Regions from separate parts of the Homo sapiens genome. Here region 1 is linked to region 2. The links come from fine-mapping of genetic effects on gene expression. A gene starts in region 2. The other region holds a variant in brackets. All regions are shown on one strand. Distances are from middle to middle.

Region 1 (8,318 bases), 200 kb before region 2:
TGAATATTTACTAAACTAGAAATCTCTGAAAAGCCAATTAAAGTCTCCTATTATCTTACCACTAAAATTACTTTCCTATGTGATTAACTCATTTTTGAAAAAATGCTTTATAAATATATAACACTGTATGATACTTTACTTATTTCCTAAGTATTGAAACATTTCCTAAGTATTGAGACCAGGATTTTGCCATTATAAAAATGCTGCAATGAACATGTTTATTCAAAAATATTTTTTCAATATTCAAGTTAATTTTTAAGGATAAAGTGAGTTAGACAGTAAGTAGGGGAGTTGTATCATTGTATTCCAGAAGAGAATGTAGTTTTTATTTAATTTTATTCTAAATTATTTTGTGGTATAAAGAGATTCGGACTAGTGAGGGAGGAGGGAAATACTAGATGAGTGTCTATACAGATGGAATTACATACTCTACATATTTTGTTTTAGTCATTACACTGTAAGGTTCTTGCCATTGATCCTTGTATCTCAGAGCCTAGCATCCTGTACAGTATATAACCAGATTCTAATATGTTTAAGTTGAAATAGTACTAATTTAAGCATTCAAAATAAACCTATGATGAAACATGTTATGGAAATATACTAGTGTCACTGAAATGTTACTAGAAGTATTATTTTGATAAATACAATAAAAATATTTAAAATACATTATTTAATGGTATCATTTTCATAATGCATTCATTCTATTACTTGATCTTGAACACAGTTAAAATATTTGAAGGGGGATTCAAAGAGTTAAGCTTAGATATGCCTAAATGGTTACTTTCATATTGGGTCTAAATGGGCTAGGTGTTGTCTGTGACCATATCAAATTGAAGTAAGAACTATACAAAATTTTCAGATTGACCATATCAAATTGAAATAAGAATTATACAAAATTTTCAGAGTTAATAAAAATGTACTTGATTCTGTTTTTGAAATAGTATAAATGAAGTAACAGCAGGTCTTGTGGTGGTGGTAAATTACAAGATAGTTTCATTGCTAAACATGAAAGATAAAATTACAGATAATATAAATGAGAGAGTGTGTGTACCTGGCTACTTTGAAAGGGATGTGTAATCGAAGAATCAGGATAAAAAGTTGAAGAATAAGTGGAGTGATTTTTAAAATTGATAAAATAGCAATCATAGTTAACATGTATCAATTACTTGCTATAAACCAAGCAACTTTCTAAGCTCTTTTTATATATTAACCCAGTTCTTTCCTCCATAGTCATTAAACCAGAATGTGTGCAGGTAGGAACCAGTTATCTGGGGGATCTTTTAAAAGTATCGATACTTTTATTGAGTTTTATTTTAAAAGTATCGAAACCCCATCTCTACTAAAAATACAAAAAATTAGCCGGGCGTGGTGGCAGGCGCCTGTAGTCCCAGCTACTCGGGAGGCTGAGGCGGGAGAATGGCGTGAACCTGGGAGGCGGAACTTGGAGTGAGCCAAGATCGCGCCACTGCACTCCAGCCGGGGCCACAGAGCAAGACTGTCTCAAAAAAAAAAAAAAAAAAAAAAAAAAAAAAAATCCCCCCGACAATTCCAGTTTGCAGCAAAGTCTGGAAACCACTCAATAATGGTGCAGTATTTATATTCTCGTACTTATTTTATTAAAGTGGAAACTGAGTCAGAGAAGTAATTTGCCAAGGTCAGGGAGCTGCGACGTGATTCCAGGTGTTCTGATTTTTGAGCCGTTCCTCGACCACTGCAATGTCTCCCCAGTGCTTTAGTGACTACTTCCTGTATGAAAGCATTCATACAGGCATTCAAAAGTATGTCTCAGTGAAATAATAGATTGCTACATCACTGACCTTTAGTATCATTTCAAAGTTTAAATTCCATGAGTACCAAGGGTATGTGATGAAGTAATAGCTCTAGCAAACGATTTTGTTCTCCAAATGAAAAACGAATGACTTCTAACAGAGTCCCATTCTGTGAGCTGAGGACTCCTAGTGGGCGTTGTAATAATAACTCTTCTGAAAATAATTTTTCAGATGCATGTATATGCTGTTGTGATTAACAAAATACAGTTTCATTTAAAGTATTGCAAAAGTTACAAGGACTTTTAGTTATGCATTTTTTCAATGAAAAGATTTCCAAAATATCACTAACTGGAAAGAGCCAGATGTCTTGATATTACTCAAAAAAGGCTGTGAACTCCTGCTTTAGACAATCATCTTCAGGGCAGCCATTCTTTTTGACAAGTGGCACCCAGAACAGTTGGACCTACTGAAAATAACAGAATTGTCCTTTAGAACTCAACCAGTAACAGAACTGTATTGATTATGAATAATGCACCTATTTTTATCACAATAAATTTTAGAAAAAAAGGCATCAACCTACAAATGAGCATTTGTAACTCTTGACCAAATACCAAGTGGCAGTCAGCATAAAGTAGAACTAAATGATACAATGTGCACGTTCTTCATGTTGAAACTTTGGCATTCACTGGCTATCTGTAGAAACTGCAAAGCTTATATGTGATGCCAGGCCCCACTTCAACAAAGTTTTTAACCCACCGTTTAAGACATTCACACACACACACACACACACACCCCTCAGGAGTAATATCATGGCCTGCCTCATAGATCATATGCATAATTTCTTTCATCCCTCTGAATACAGTGCCATCACCTCTCTTGGATTGCCTGATTTCCAGTCCTAATCAGCTGACGCAGCAGTCAGGCAAATAAGATTTCTTTAATAAAAGATAGATAGTGATCTATAATGTATAATAATTTTTTTCTTACCGTTTTTTGCCCTGACACTTAAAACTATTTCAATCAGCGCTTAAAGTGTCAGACAGGGGAAGGCAAGAATTTCAGAAAACATTGGGCACAGGAGGGCAATATATGCTGATTTAGATTCTCCCTCTCAGTGTCAAAGGATAATTAGTGAGAAAGACAACAAATGCCTTCCTCGCAGTTGCAATCAGTTAAAACCAGGTAACAAATTTATACATCAATATGTTTGTAAAGATAGATACATATGCATGAATACATGAAACACGCAAAAATAATTTAGTATTCAATCTCAGATACACGAATATACTTAAGAAAGAGAAGTTTTATTAGGGCAATTTCACTTTATTTTTCCATACAGCAAAGTCAACTACTGCAGTAATAATAAAATAAGCATAAAACAAATTGCAGCCCAAGACAAAATACATAATTTTAAGCAACTACAAGCAGAAAGTAAGTTGTGATTACATAATAGTAAAACCAAGCACATTTGTCCTTTCAGCAGATGAAAGTGGTAGGGTTGCTGATAAGTGCAACATTTTTAACCAGCTGGAGTGAAGGCTGGATACACTAATTCTTTTAAACAAGTGCCCATTATCACATTTTGCATTTTTGAGTGCTTCTGAGTTGAAAATTAAAACCATGAAATTTGAACTGCGTTTTATTTTTCACCTGCTGAAAGAACAGGATCCTACAGCAATTAAAAAACAATCACATAACAACTATAGCTACAGTGTGCTGTTTGGTTTGCCTGTTTATGATTTAAATTTTGTGAAAGTCAATACTTGTTTTGAAGATTTTTTTGTGAACAATAAACCACTGAAATTGGCAGAAACTGATCTGAATAATATATGTTCTTAGTATAGTTCTTTCTCTCTTTTTTTGTTGAAGTTTTAAACATGCAGTAGTTTTGAAAAATGTAAGGAATATCTGATCCATGATTTCACCTTAATGGTAGAAGTACCTGCTATTTTTGGTAATGATCTTCAGGCAGATTTGGCCCCATGGAGTTTTTGTCAGTCATGAGGGTTTGAAAGGATGGCGTATCTTTCCAGCTGAAAAAATCCTGGCAAACTACAAGCTGTCCACAAGAAAGCAAAGCAACATGTTTGAAGGGGTATGGAGTGCTAACTCTGTGCCACTTTTGCAAGCAATTTTGCTCAGTCTGTCATTGTATTAGCCTTAACAAAACTCCTTGTAATTATAGACGTTTTTATTCAAAATAAGATCTTACTATTATACAGGTTTCTCTCTTTTGACTATATACAGAAGTGCAAAAAGTCAACCTTCTCCCTAGAC[G/A]TTCCAACATGCTAAATTGCAGCATAATCAACCCTCAAGAGTTTGCACACACGCTATAATTTTCATTACGTAAACTTTGAGTATTTGGATTATCAACAAAAAGTCCCTTGTTCTATTTATTGATTATGCAGCTTATTTATAACAAGGCCTGATACTCAGGGATTTCAAAAATATTAAACAATATTTTAACATTTGAAATGGATACAGTAGAAAATAAATTTTATTCTAATATCTAGGATCTAGATCTTCTTATAATAACTAATTACAAACAAAATAAATCATCAAAATATTACTCAATTGTCTGCCAGGATTGTTGCGATAGCAACAACTTAACTTCTTACTTAGCAATGATTATATATTTATAAGATATCCATATAAAAGATCTTTGTTCTTTTAATGAAAACTAGACAAGAACTAACAATGACTGACATTCTTACACTGTAATATTAAATCAGTAAAATATAAATCATTTAGTTAACAATACGAATATTCATGTGACACTACATGTAATTCAAAACTGAGTATGTTATGAAGGAAAAACTACTTTTTTTTGTATTTTGAAAAATTCATTGGTAAAATCTAATAAAACAAGTCTATAAACTGAAATGGTATTCAATTGTTAATAGAAAATGAAAATCTAATAAATGTAGGAAATGAAAAACTACATTTTAACAAGAAAAATAAGTAATATTCTATAATGTAACTAACTACAATAACATGTGAAGTCACCATTACTTTCTTAACACGATTGAAATTACATTGGTATGGGTTCCAACCCGTAATGTAATAATCTAAGGCTTTAATAGATGTACAGTACAATCAGTAAAATCAACACATCAGTCTTATATTAGAAAGCATCTCTCTCAAGCATAAAAACTTGCAGTAAACTTGGAAGTATGGAAAGTTCTATAACTGAACTTTCACTTCTCCCATTCCATACTATAACTACCAGTGACCTGGCCCCTACTTCAGCAATTTTTAGAACTGCTGAACAGAGCAAAAATATCCTTTACTAGCTGCAACATCCAAACCTCAAAAAAAGGAATTCCTTTGGATGATTCCATTCTTAAAAACTGAATGCACATCTATTTTTTTTTTAATTTTGTAAAAGGCTTTCTAAGGCTATAAGCAGTTAATCTGAACAAAACAAAACAAAACAAAAATCACATATAAAATTCACCCATGTACTTAACCCACCCAATTACTAGGTTAATTAAACATTTCCCATTTTCATATTTTGGTTTATCATGCATCTGATGACAGTGCTGCTTTCTTCTTTGTTTAGAGTCACTATTTTGAATGTGACTGTGATGAAGCATTTAAGCAAACGTGAAACCATTTTTGCAAAGCATTTATAGTCTTTTGACTTTTGACAGAGGCTATAAATAGAAGCAAAATAATTTCCTCATTTTTTTGTTACTGTGTCTCAGAAATGGCAATCCCTTTTGAATAACATGTTATACAGTATAGTATGCATAAATATTACACTACAATGCATTAAAATAATTTTATATATATCTATTATATATATATCTCCAGTATGTGTGAGTTTATCTGTATTGAGAGAGTTTGTGTTGTGCTGTCTATTGTTACTGTAAAGTTAAATTGGCCATTTCTGAGACAGCTTTGGTTTCAAAAAAAAAAAAAAAGAATGGTGCCCTTTGACTGATTAGTACTAGCAAATATGCAACAAAATGTGGCTCTGAAAACAATAACACTGAAGAAATAATACTCTAATTTGATGTACAGTCTATGGCACTTCATGAGAATCCTTAACAACATGGTACTTAAAGCCATGATGTGCTTTAAAATATACACAGTTGTGGTTTTGCTTGGCACATTCATCTCTGTCAGATCCCTCCCTCACCACGTCTTACAATCTATTACATTAAAAATATTACTCTTAAACAAAAATGACTGTGCATGCACGCTCTCATCTATAATGGCAATTTTAAATACAAGGTGCACCTTTGTTATTTGTAAACCTTGAAAGAAATAAACTTATTTTTAAAAAATTATATCTTGGTCTACAGACGTACCAATACATAATAGAATCATGGTTACACCATAGTCTGTCTTTTCAAGATGGCATGAATATATAGGAAACTAACTAGGTATGCATCTTTGAATGCATAACTCTGTGCTAGAAAAGAAAGACAATGTTGTTCTTTTAGACAGGAATATCACCTCAGCACAAATATCAATTAAATGTACAAAGTGTATAGGCAACAGTGTGCAGTGGATTTCCGGAAAATGTTGTCTTTTCTTCTGGTTAACATGCAATATGTGGATGTCTTGTGGCTGAGGAACTTTTGTGTGTGTTGCTTGACGATATATACAATATGGCTAATGACCTCGTCCTTTACTCTAACCAAGCACACTGTCCTTTCCTCTTTAGCATGATCTACAAGGGAAAAAGAGATAAGCTTTGTTAGAACAGGTAATATCTAAAAGCAGTTTCTAATATACATTTAATATGAAAATTTTCTTTTTGATTAACCAGTATATTTACATTATATCTTCATATAAAAACAAAAACCATTTTACAAGAGTAGACAGATCAAAATTTGTCTATCATCTCTACACGAATGAAATAACACGTACAATTTAATAAAACTGTAGAATGTGCTCCAAAATTTACCAATCCTAAACTAAAAGTATAAAATACATTTGCAGAATCAGGGGGCCTAATATACAGAGCTCTTTTTTAGCACAATTGTTGTAGGGCAAAATTTAAACTTCTTTTCTGAAGTTTAATAAGGTTTCAAGAGTAAAGGTCTGGTCTACAAAATTAAAATTCATGTAATATGTTCTATTAAACAAGATTTATTCTTTTTGGGTGCTTGATTAGCATAATGCATGTTTGAAAAAAAAAGAATGATACTTTAAGTGATGGCTTTGGGTAATTCAGTTTGTTGAACTTTTTTCACCTAAAACTAAGAAAATAAAAATCATTCTTTTTGAATTACAGAATTATTACTCATGAATTAAGCTGTAATAGACATTACAATGTACTTGTGGATTAACAGTTCCAGTTTTTACATGAAATTTGTTCTCAGCAGCGAATATTTACATATATTAAAAGTATGCTTCACAATACAACCTTGAAAATGAAAGAAATCATAATCTAGTGACTCAAAAACCAGTTTAAATGTTGCAACTCCTCATGAAGATGAGCAATCATTTGTTAAATGAACAGAACATTAAAAGCTTAGCTTCAATACAGACAAAACTACTGGTTTGCTAATTATTTTTAGAAATTTTTTTCAACCTGGATTATTGCTAAGAAACAGAATTTAGTTAAATATATACATACCAAACACACCTAATTGACTATAAGAGCTTGAAACAGATTTTTCTGGCATGTCAAAAAAACCTCTTCTTCTAAACCTACAACACTGCAAAGTAATGCCTCTTCTTCTACAAATGTGGCTATTGTTCAGAATCTGAACCTTTTTATCAGAACTGCTTTGAGAAAACTTATGAAATAGACAAAAATCAATTTTAATAATTCACGATTGCAGCATATCTTTGGCAGTACTTCTCCAGTTGAGCCTCTCATTTCTTTCTTAAATGGCTATTGAATTCTGCCTGTTCTCCTGCATGGGCTTTGACTTTGTCCAGCTTTGCTACAGATTAACATCACAAGGGTTTCTGAGTTGGTTCTCAGCCATCATCGTTTCCTGACTTGGCACACTGTCCTTCTTTTACAAGGCCTTTACACCTCCATTCTCTTTAGAACAACACCTTCATTGTCCACATTCATTTGTTTACGGATCCTGTTGGGAACAGCTGCTCCTTCATCTTTGCTCTAAGAGAAATTTCTTCAAACCTCTCTTATTTTACTATATTATCCTGAAATTCCTTACATCTTTATCTTATTATCTATTTACCTTTATCTCCTTGCCATGGTAACTAACACAAAGTAGCACCAAAAACTCATTTGTAAATATGTTAATAAATAAATAAAGGAAGCAACAAAGAATGGTCACCCATCTTAACCAATTTCAGTTTTAAATGTAATGTCTCTTTCTAAATATAAAAATAAATAACAAGCATCTGAGCACATGTTATAACTTGAATGCATGCATACTGGACAAAACATATTCCTATGGATGAAAAATGGACACCTTTTTAAGTATTTAAGACAGTGGTTTTTTTTTTTGTTTTTTTTTTTATACTTTAAGTTTTAGGGTACATGTGCACATTGTGCAGGTTAGTTACATATGTATACATGTGCCATGCTGGTGCGCTGCACCCACTAACGTGTCA
Region 2 (8,289 bases):
ATCTTCACCTTTTTGGAATAACTGGTCTCTGTGGAAAAGCAATTCTCTACTCTGTCCAATATGGCTACATTTCGTTTTGAGATTAATATTTCCTGAACTGTTTTAACAAAAGATAATCATAGTAACCTAGAGAACATAATCAAAAACAGTAGAAAAAGAACCAAATGTGTAAGACTTAATTCTCCTAACACAAATATTTCAAGATGTGTGTTACACATATTTTTACAGATTTCACAGGCACATATGATGAGATGCCTCTCTAAAAACATGAACGATTATCTGAAAGAGATGTTCTGGATCTGTTATGAAAAAAACTGGTAATATGTAGAAAACTATAACCATGTATTTACTATTTTTTTCCTCAAGGATGTATCTGTAATGCTTATATAAACGTTTATTTTTTATAATATGAAAAACACTACGTAAAAACCGATTTCTCTACCTCAAATTTAAAAATAAAAAATATGTCTAGAGACAGTTAATGCCATATGCCAATAGCTCTTCTTGAATCCTCTGCCTTGCAATCAATAATTCTCCAACCATTAGTGAATATGCTCCATGACTCATCAGAAACAATATACAAAGTTAATGGGGATCATTCTTCCCCTCACCCTCCACACACGCACTGACACTAATGGAAGCTATGCCTCATCTAGTGGAAGACAGACTCAAGATGGCACCAAGCTGAGGCAACTCTTCTTGAGGCTCTATATACAAACTAGCTAACCTCCCCACGAAGAATCCACAACATCCATTTTACATTTTTTGGCATCCTTCGAGAAAATAATAGTAAGCATACTTTATATGGCTAGAAAAGAACCACATTTTTTTCAGCTTAACACTCACTGTGAATGGCAAAATGTACTTCAGTTATGAAAATATCTGAAAGGAATGTTTCCAGGACCTATGCCATTGTGCTTTGTTTACCAGTCAGATGCCTTCTCAAGAATGTGTTCAAATTATAAAGACAGTGTCTCCATGTATAGAAATTCTTCAGAGCCCATAATGTTACGTTAGAAACACATTTTCACCTTTGCTAATATTCAAAACAATACCCTCCTATCTGCAGGTAAAAATCTTTCATTCTTATGAATGCAGCAATCTTTTATTAACATTTGCTCAGGACTTTGGATATGGGTTTTTTTTTTTAACTTTCTAAAGAAAGTTCTAGCAAAAGAAAACACATATTAAGTATTTGAAGATAATTGCTATTTACTAAAATCTCTATTTTAAAATAATTTTAGTGACTCGTTTATGTTTGGTAACTTCAGGACAATGATAACTACAGTGTCTCTAAAATGTTCCTAAGTAACAATCATACTCTATTTTGGCCTTTGAGAGGTGTTAAGACTCATTCTCTAATTATAAGTTTTTCTCTATTATTACTACCTCACCATCAAATCTCTAAACTAAATAGCAGCTTTGAGGAAATAAAAATAGATGTTAGGTGGTGTGTTTTCTCAAATTTTGGTTACAATGGATAAGAAAGACGAGGTATTTCTATGTATAATAAAATAAGCCAATTTTATTGTTTTGACCAGCAAAATCTTTAAGCTTTCTCCCAGAATATTGTTTTCCTGCTTTATCCTAGAACAACACTGTCCAAAATAAATACGATGTTAGCCACATTTGTTATATTTTCTAGACACCATGAAAGAGAGAGAGAGAGAGAGAGAGAGAGAGAGAAAAGAAACAGGTGAAGTTAATCTAGTAAGATCTTCTATTAGAACCAATATATCAAAAATTATCATTAAAACATATCATAAATATAAAAATATTAATCAGATGTTTTACTTTCTTCCCCTCATATAAAGTTTTCAAAACCGGTAGTATTTTACACTTCTCAATCTGGACAAGACACATTTCAAGTGCTCAACAGCCACATGTGGCTACTGTACTGGACAGCACATTCTAGATTTCCAAACATATGAAGCTTTTTGGCCTAAAAAAACCATACACTTTAAAATCTTTCTATGTCACATTCTCTATGATCCATATGGTTGATGGGATTTTATTTTGGGCCAATCACTTCGTGAACCTATTTCACTTCTTTCCTCCACTCTTTTGACTCTCATATCTACTACCCACCCTAATGCCTTTGCATACAGAATTTTAAAAACCCAATCACCTATTCTTTTCAGCTTCTCCTAACCAAGACCTGAGATGTTCTCTAATCCGCACATCTATCACCAAGCAGAAAGCCAGAAGGTGCAGCAAGATTATTTATTCTCTGTTTCCATATAGATCTATCAAATACAGGCCTAATGTATGGCAACAGTGACAAATGCAAGGGCATTTTTTTCTTATAATGAAGATAAGGCATTTTATATAATAAAGTAACACACCCTTCCTCAATGAGAAATACAATTTTCAATGAGAAATATAATTTTACTCTTTTTTTTTCCCCCAGGAGAAATTTTGGGTTAGTCTGTTCTTGTTCTGGAACAAAACCCAGTGTTTCATTTCATAGGAATTCTGTGCCCAAAGGAAGAACAGAATGTTGGAATCAAAATTTAATGAATTCAACTTGGAGTCTAACTTTGCCTCAAATGTGGAAATGTAAACACAAGCAATAATATCTCAAACCATATAACACTTCAGTTTCTCTTTGGCATGACTGCGCAGAGTACCACACTTGATGTGTATCTACACACAAATTTGTTCACAGTTACATAAGGAAAAAAATTAAACTAGGCATATGTGAGGTTTTTCTGAGTCTCTTAGTAATAATGAAATCTGATTATTATGTCTTAAGTGACACTATAATTATAGATGAACAGGTTTTCTGTTGCTGACCCAACCTGTTCCTTAAAACACAAAAGGCAACTTTTGTAGTCTTCAGCAAGGAAACCCCCCATTAAACAAATAAGACTAAAAAAGCTATGCCTACATTTTCAAAGAAGACCTAACAATATAATAATAATAATAAAGTAACTCCCATGCAAATACACAAAACAGATAAAAACTAGAACATTAGGTTTTCTAAAGAAGTTTAGCCTTAGTTGTCACCAACTTTAAGAAAGCAAGATACAAGTGACAGCGATGTGCATTCTCAGGCTACAAAATAACTTATTCAGTGCCTCTATCTATAACTACATCTAAGACATTCTAAGTATTGAACTGCACATTCCTGGGATAAATTTTACAGTCGTTGAACTTTCATTTTCTCTCTGGGTGATAATATTTTATCTCAACAGCAAGGAGAAACACCAACACACTTAGGAATCCACACAGAGAGATAACTGTGGAGTGGCTCTCTTGTGCTGGTATAGAATACTTAGGTACTAAACACCCTCTGTGTATAAACAGACACTGTGTTCAAACCCAGGAGGAAGGGACATAGTGTCCACCGGTGTAGTATTTCAAAGCACGCTGCAGAGGGCTCGAAAGTCTAAAAGCATTAATTATGACTTCTCTCCTAGCGTATTAATTTAAGAAACTCCTCAGAGTATATGGCAGAGTTTGCCATCCATCTGCTATGACTTGTGCCTGTGCTGGTGGGCACACAAAGTGAAGTCAGCGGCAACAACCTTTCCGGCAGCTTCTTAACTTTAATCCTGGGGAGACATACTCCACGGAAATACACCCCAGAATCCCAACAGCCGCATACTCTCCCGGCCCCAGAGAGCCTTAAGAATACAATATTACTCTGGCAGCAACACCCCTGTAGTTGTAAAGTGCTGTGCGAGGGGAAGGCATAAGCGCCACCATATACCTGCTCGTGTTACAGGCTCTGGAATCAAAGTATTCTCACATGACACATTACTACCAATAACAGATTCCGGCTCCGTTTAAAAAAAAAAAAAAAAGTTGGGGGGTGGCTACATATTTGTCCTGCTTTTGTCTAAAAACCAGAACCCAAGTACTAACTACTTTTCATTCTTTTCAACCTTTCATGAAAGCAATTCAACCAACTGCGGCTCCACCCAAAGAGCTTCTATACTTACTTTTCTTACAGTTTTTGAGTGACGCACTACAAAACGATGAAAAAAAAAAGAAGAAGAAGAAAAGGAGGAGGCAGCCCTCTCCTACAGGGCGTCTTCCGCCCTGTAAACTTGGCAAAAGGCAAACTGGCCTGAAATACAGCACTCTCCATATAAGGCAGCCCAGCTAAACATGTCATGCGTAATTTATGGGTAGCAAGCAGAGAATTAACCTTTGCGTGCACATATTTGGCCCAGATGAAAACCGGGCGGGATGGCAGCCCCGGGGCCAGGGATGCGGGAGCCGCCGGGAAGACCCGCGCGCCGCTCGACTCAGAGGGACTCACACCTTCCCCCGACAAAGGTCATTAAGTTGTGAGTACACTTGCACGCACCTGTTTCTCTTCTCGCCCCCCTGTTTCTCCCTGGGTCCCGCTGGGCTGCCAAGCCGTGCGCGGGCTGTGCCGTGACAGCGTCCGCAGAGCCCGCGGCAGGGAAGGGCGCAGGAGCGGCTGCGGCTCACCCTCCCGCCTTCCCCCGGGCAGGAGGTGCTGAGGGACGCGAAACCAACTACCGCGAGCGGCCCGCCCCTGCCCGGGAGAACCGCGGCCGGCGAGCACCTCCTCGCACTTCCTCCTTCAGCCACGGGCAGACCCGCCGGAGTCCGAACAATGAAGCGGCGCGGGGAAACTGTGAAAATGGAAACTTACCTCTCACATTTTTTTTTCAGAGGCGGCCCCACTGTCGACCAAGTGCCCAAGGCATTGTGGGAGTCATGATTCCAAGATGCCCGCGACGGAAAATGGAACTTGTCAGCTCCTTGTCATGGGAGCATTGTGGGCGCCACAACTCATTCAGCTGCAGTGAAAAGACTGTTGCATGTCGCTGTGCAGCCTCTTATCGCCGAGGTCTGGCTTCCGCTGCTGCTGCGCGGCCCCTCCCCCGCCCGCCCAGCCCCACCAGGAAGCCCAGGGCGGACTCGTCGAGCTCCTAATGCACGCGGCGGCGAGAAAAACGCTCTTCAACTTTCCGCCGGCGCCCTCCCGCGCTTCCCCGGGCCACAGGGTCGCCTGTCAACCGGACAGAGCCCGCAAGAGCGGGTCATGGGCGGTCGCCCAGCGGCGCCGAGAGCAGGAGGAAGCCGGAGCCCGCGCGGGCGCCGTGGATCCCCTCGGCCTCCCGTTGGTATCTTCCATCTCATGCGTTCAGCATTGTAACCTCGCGGCGGGCGTGCAGACCGGACGCCCTCCCGCTTCTTCTACCGACTGCTAGGCACACCAGTGGGTTCATTTTGAAAGAGGCCCTTGCACCGGGCTTTGCAAGGAAGCCGGCAAGGTTAGATTGAAGGTTAGAAGCCAATTAGACTAGAATCCTGCGATCTGGTGAGACTGCCGCCTTAAAATGCACCAAACAGTTTTTGAACCTGGAGGGCTAACAGGCGGGAAAAACATCTGCAAGACTGCCACCGTGTATTTTTCTCAAGTAACAGGCTATCCACAGTTTTGGAATTCCTTAGTGAAACTGTCACACAGGCACAAACACATGTCAGCTTTCCTTCTAGTTTGTAAATAATATTTGTAATTTACAGGCCACTGTATTCCCAACTTTGCACCATGTGATTTAGAGAAAGCAAAGCTCCCTCTTTAAAAATAATATGTTACTTCTGAAATACCGGGATATTCCACGGCAAGTAAGCCATATTGTCGCCAGAGCAAATAAACCGCAGCCCCATATCATAATTCACTGGGTGCTATAAGATGTAACTTGGCTTTGCTTTGAATGGAAAGAATCCTGAACGTCTGTGATGTGATGAAGTTTTGGAGACTGGGGGCAGGATTTCCTTTGAATGTAAGGAATTCGGATAACTTGTTCAAGGATGATTCTAGTGAAAAACGTTTGTCCCATGTTTGTTGGGACAAAAATGCTGGATATGGTACAACATTCTTCCTGCAGGTTCGGTTTTGTTGAAGAGAGTGAGGCCAGCTCGAGGTGAAGGAAAAACATCAGAAAGGTGCTAAAGTGCAGAAATATCTTCCAGAGGCACTAATAGCCGACTTTAGTTCTTGACCTTTAGCTAGATCCACAAAGCACTGAGTTAAAATTGTACACTGATCCCTTCCAGAACAAATTAATTAATTAAATGGTGCCTCTTCCCAGCGTTAATCGTTTAAAAGGACTCAAGTACCCACACAGTTTAAGCAAACTAAAAGAACACTGACACTTTCTCAGAGAACAGGGATGGGAACTTTCTATCTGCCCATTAGTATCTACCCCAAGCTACGAAGACTTCCATTCCTCTTATTAAGCATTCAGCAACTACATTTAGTGCCTACTATGCCAGTGATGCAAGAATGGATAAGACAGTCCCTACACTCAAGGATAACGCCTCTAGTAGGTGAGAGACAAACCGATTAATTCTGCATAAGGGATAAGTGCTGTATGTGGGAAGCAATCCAATGAGGGCTCTGAGGATGGCAAAGGAAGGGTTCCTGGAGGATTTACATTTAACTGGTGCCTTGAAAGGTGTGTAGAAGTTGGCAAGATCAAAAGGGAGTAGAGTCCAGGTGGAGAAGAGAAAAGAGCAGGGCAGGCTGGATGGCATGGCTCACACCTGTAATCCCAGCACTTTGGGAGGCCATGGAGGGAGGATTGAGGCCAGGAGTTTGAGACCAGCCTGGGTGACATTAAAAGACCCTGTCTCAAAGAAAACGAAAGGAGCAGGGTATATACAAGGGGTCTGCCAGCCTTCTCAGCCTTTCTGTGAGAAGCGAGGGTAGGGTAGTACAGGAGAGTGGCAGGAGATGACACTAAAAGTAGGTCTGTGTTGATCTAACGAGTCTCAACTTTACTGCCAAAACTAATGAACTAGGAAAGTTTAGGCAGCAAGGGCCAGAGATGGAGTCTGGACTTGTATTGCAGAAAGTTCCTGTGACGGCAGCTTGGAGGGTGAATGAGAGTGTGGGATGGAGGGGTGAATGGGTGTGGACAGACTGGAAAAATGACTCATGCAGGGAATGAGGAAGGGAGGAGCCTTGGGAGACTCTCAAATCCCTGGCTTAGCCTACTGAATTGCTTGCTACTTGCCTTTTTATGTCTTCATTTTGCCTCCCATTGTCTGTGATATTAAAGGCCTAACTTCTTAGTAGAGCAAACTTTGCATCTGCTAGCAGGTTGGTGCCCTAGCTAGCTTCCATGCCCCTCTGCTTAGAATGCCTGCGAACCACTAAGGACTAATCCTAGTGGTAGAAATTTATTTTCAATTGTTCTCAAACCCTTGTAGAATTCCAAGTTAGAACTGTAGTGTTCTTTTTTCATGTGGGTTAGAAAATTTGCTGTTTGGAGCAACATGGTGAAACACAGGACTTTTGAACCTGCTTATGGTGCAAAAGGGGAAATTATATTTCTACTTCAACACTGGAGGAGGGGGGACTTCTGGGAGCAAAAGAGAAATGGAAACTGAGATGAGACATGTTTTTTACTCCATGACAGAATACAAAGAAATACAAGGATGATCCTTTAATGTTAGAAACAGTAGAATAACCATCCTGGTAAATAAAAAAGGAGAAAAAATGTTATTTTACATTAGATACAGAAAAACAGAATGGCTAAGAAAACTCACAAAGCAATGGTCAATCTATAACTCGAGTCCAAATAAATTGTGATATAACACTAAATTACCACTGATTTGGCCTAATTGACTATCACTGGATAACATTATAACATGAATGATAATATTTAAAATTTTAAAGCACTGTAACAAACACCAGATCATGTTAAAACTATTCAATCATGTTGTCAGCTTTCAACTGCCAGTAGCATCCTAACCACATTTCAAACTATGGAAATTACTAAAAAATCATTATTGTAATAAAAAGTTAATAGTTCCTCATTTAGAATACCATTGATATTCCCTCAGTGCCAGGAGAACATTATGGTTTCTCCTATTTCTGTGAAGTGTATAGTCTACAGGTTCATAAGTGAGTATATCCATGAGTATAAAAAGAAGGTCATTTATGGGTGGAGAGGGAAATTATAGAAAACAATTTCAGATGAAATAAACTACATTTTCAGATAAAGGAAAGAGTGTTCACTGCAGGTTCCTGAAATATTTCAGTCCATTCAAGTTTTAATTATACCAATGAATCTCAATAAAAATACAGTTAAGGAATATGGTTTTTATAGATAATGTCAGCTCCTTGTTTACCAATAATAAAGATAAAGATAATGGCAGCATTTATCTTTTTCAGTCCAATGGGGATATTTAAGGTACCTATGTAAGTGTGTGAGTGCCTGTGTGAATTGTGACTTACTTCTTCTGCATACCACATTCATAGCTCAATAAGCTCTCACTGCCTCTGCAATATAA

Direction of the effects. Positions count from the first base shown, and alleles are read on the strand shown. Sizes are in standard deviations (SD) of each study's normalised expression.
For the expression in CD8 T cells of the gene that starts at base 4,797 in region 2, G is the high allele of the variant in region 1 and A is the other (large effect, 0.82 SD a copy in Kasela 2017).

The links. PIP is the estimated chance that this variant, and not a neighbour inherited with it, causes the effect.
Region 1: its variant is fine-mapped to the expression of MBNL1 in CD8 T cells (Kasela 2017, PIP 0.95). The same link has a PIP of 0.9 or more in B cells, CD4 T cells, NK cells, ileum, monocytes and monocytes after LPS.

Annotation. Positions count from the first base shown.
Region 1 is chr3:152,460,517-152,468,834 of GRCh38, reverse strand. MBNL1 (muscleblind like splicing regulator 1) reads right to left here. Exons shown (of 10, transcript NM_021038.5): 10 at 3,055-6,450. Among named protein-coding and RNA genes, the nearest start is that of MBNL1-AS1, 200 kb to the right of the region's middle. The variant G/A (reference allele first, on the strand shown) is at 4,047.
Region 2 is chr3:152,265,437-152,273,725 of GRCh38, reverse strand. MBNL1 (muscleblind like splicing regulator 1) reads right to left here and starts at 4,797. Exons shown (of 10, transcript NM_021038.5): 1 at 4,634-4,797. MBNL1-AS1 (MBNL1 antisense RNA 1) reads left to right here and starts at 4,100. Exons shown (of 2, transcript NR_027038.1): 1 at 4,100-4,298; 2 at 4,654-8,289. RefSeq lists silencers at 4,350-4,459, 4,860-4,909, 4,960-5,019 and enhancers at 3,910-4,751, 5,210-5,309, 4,752-5,594.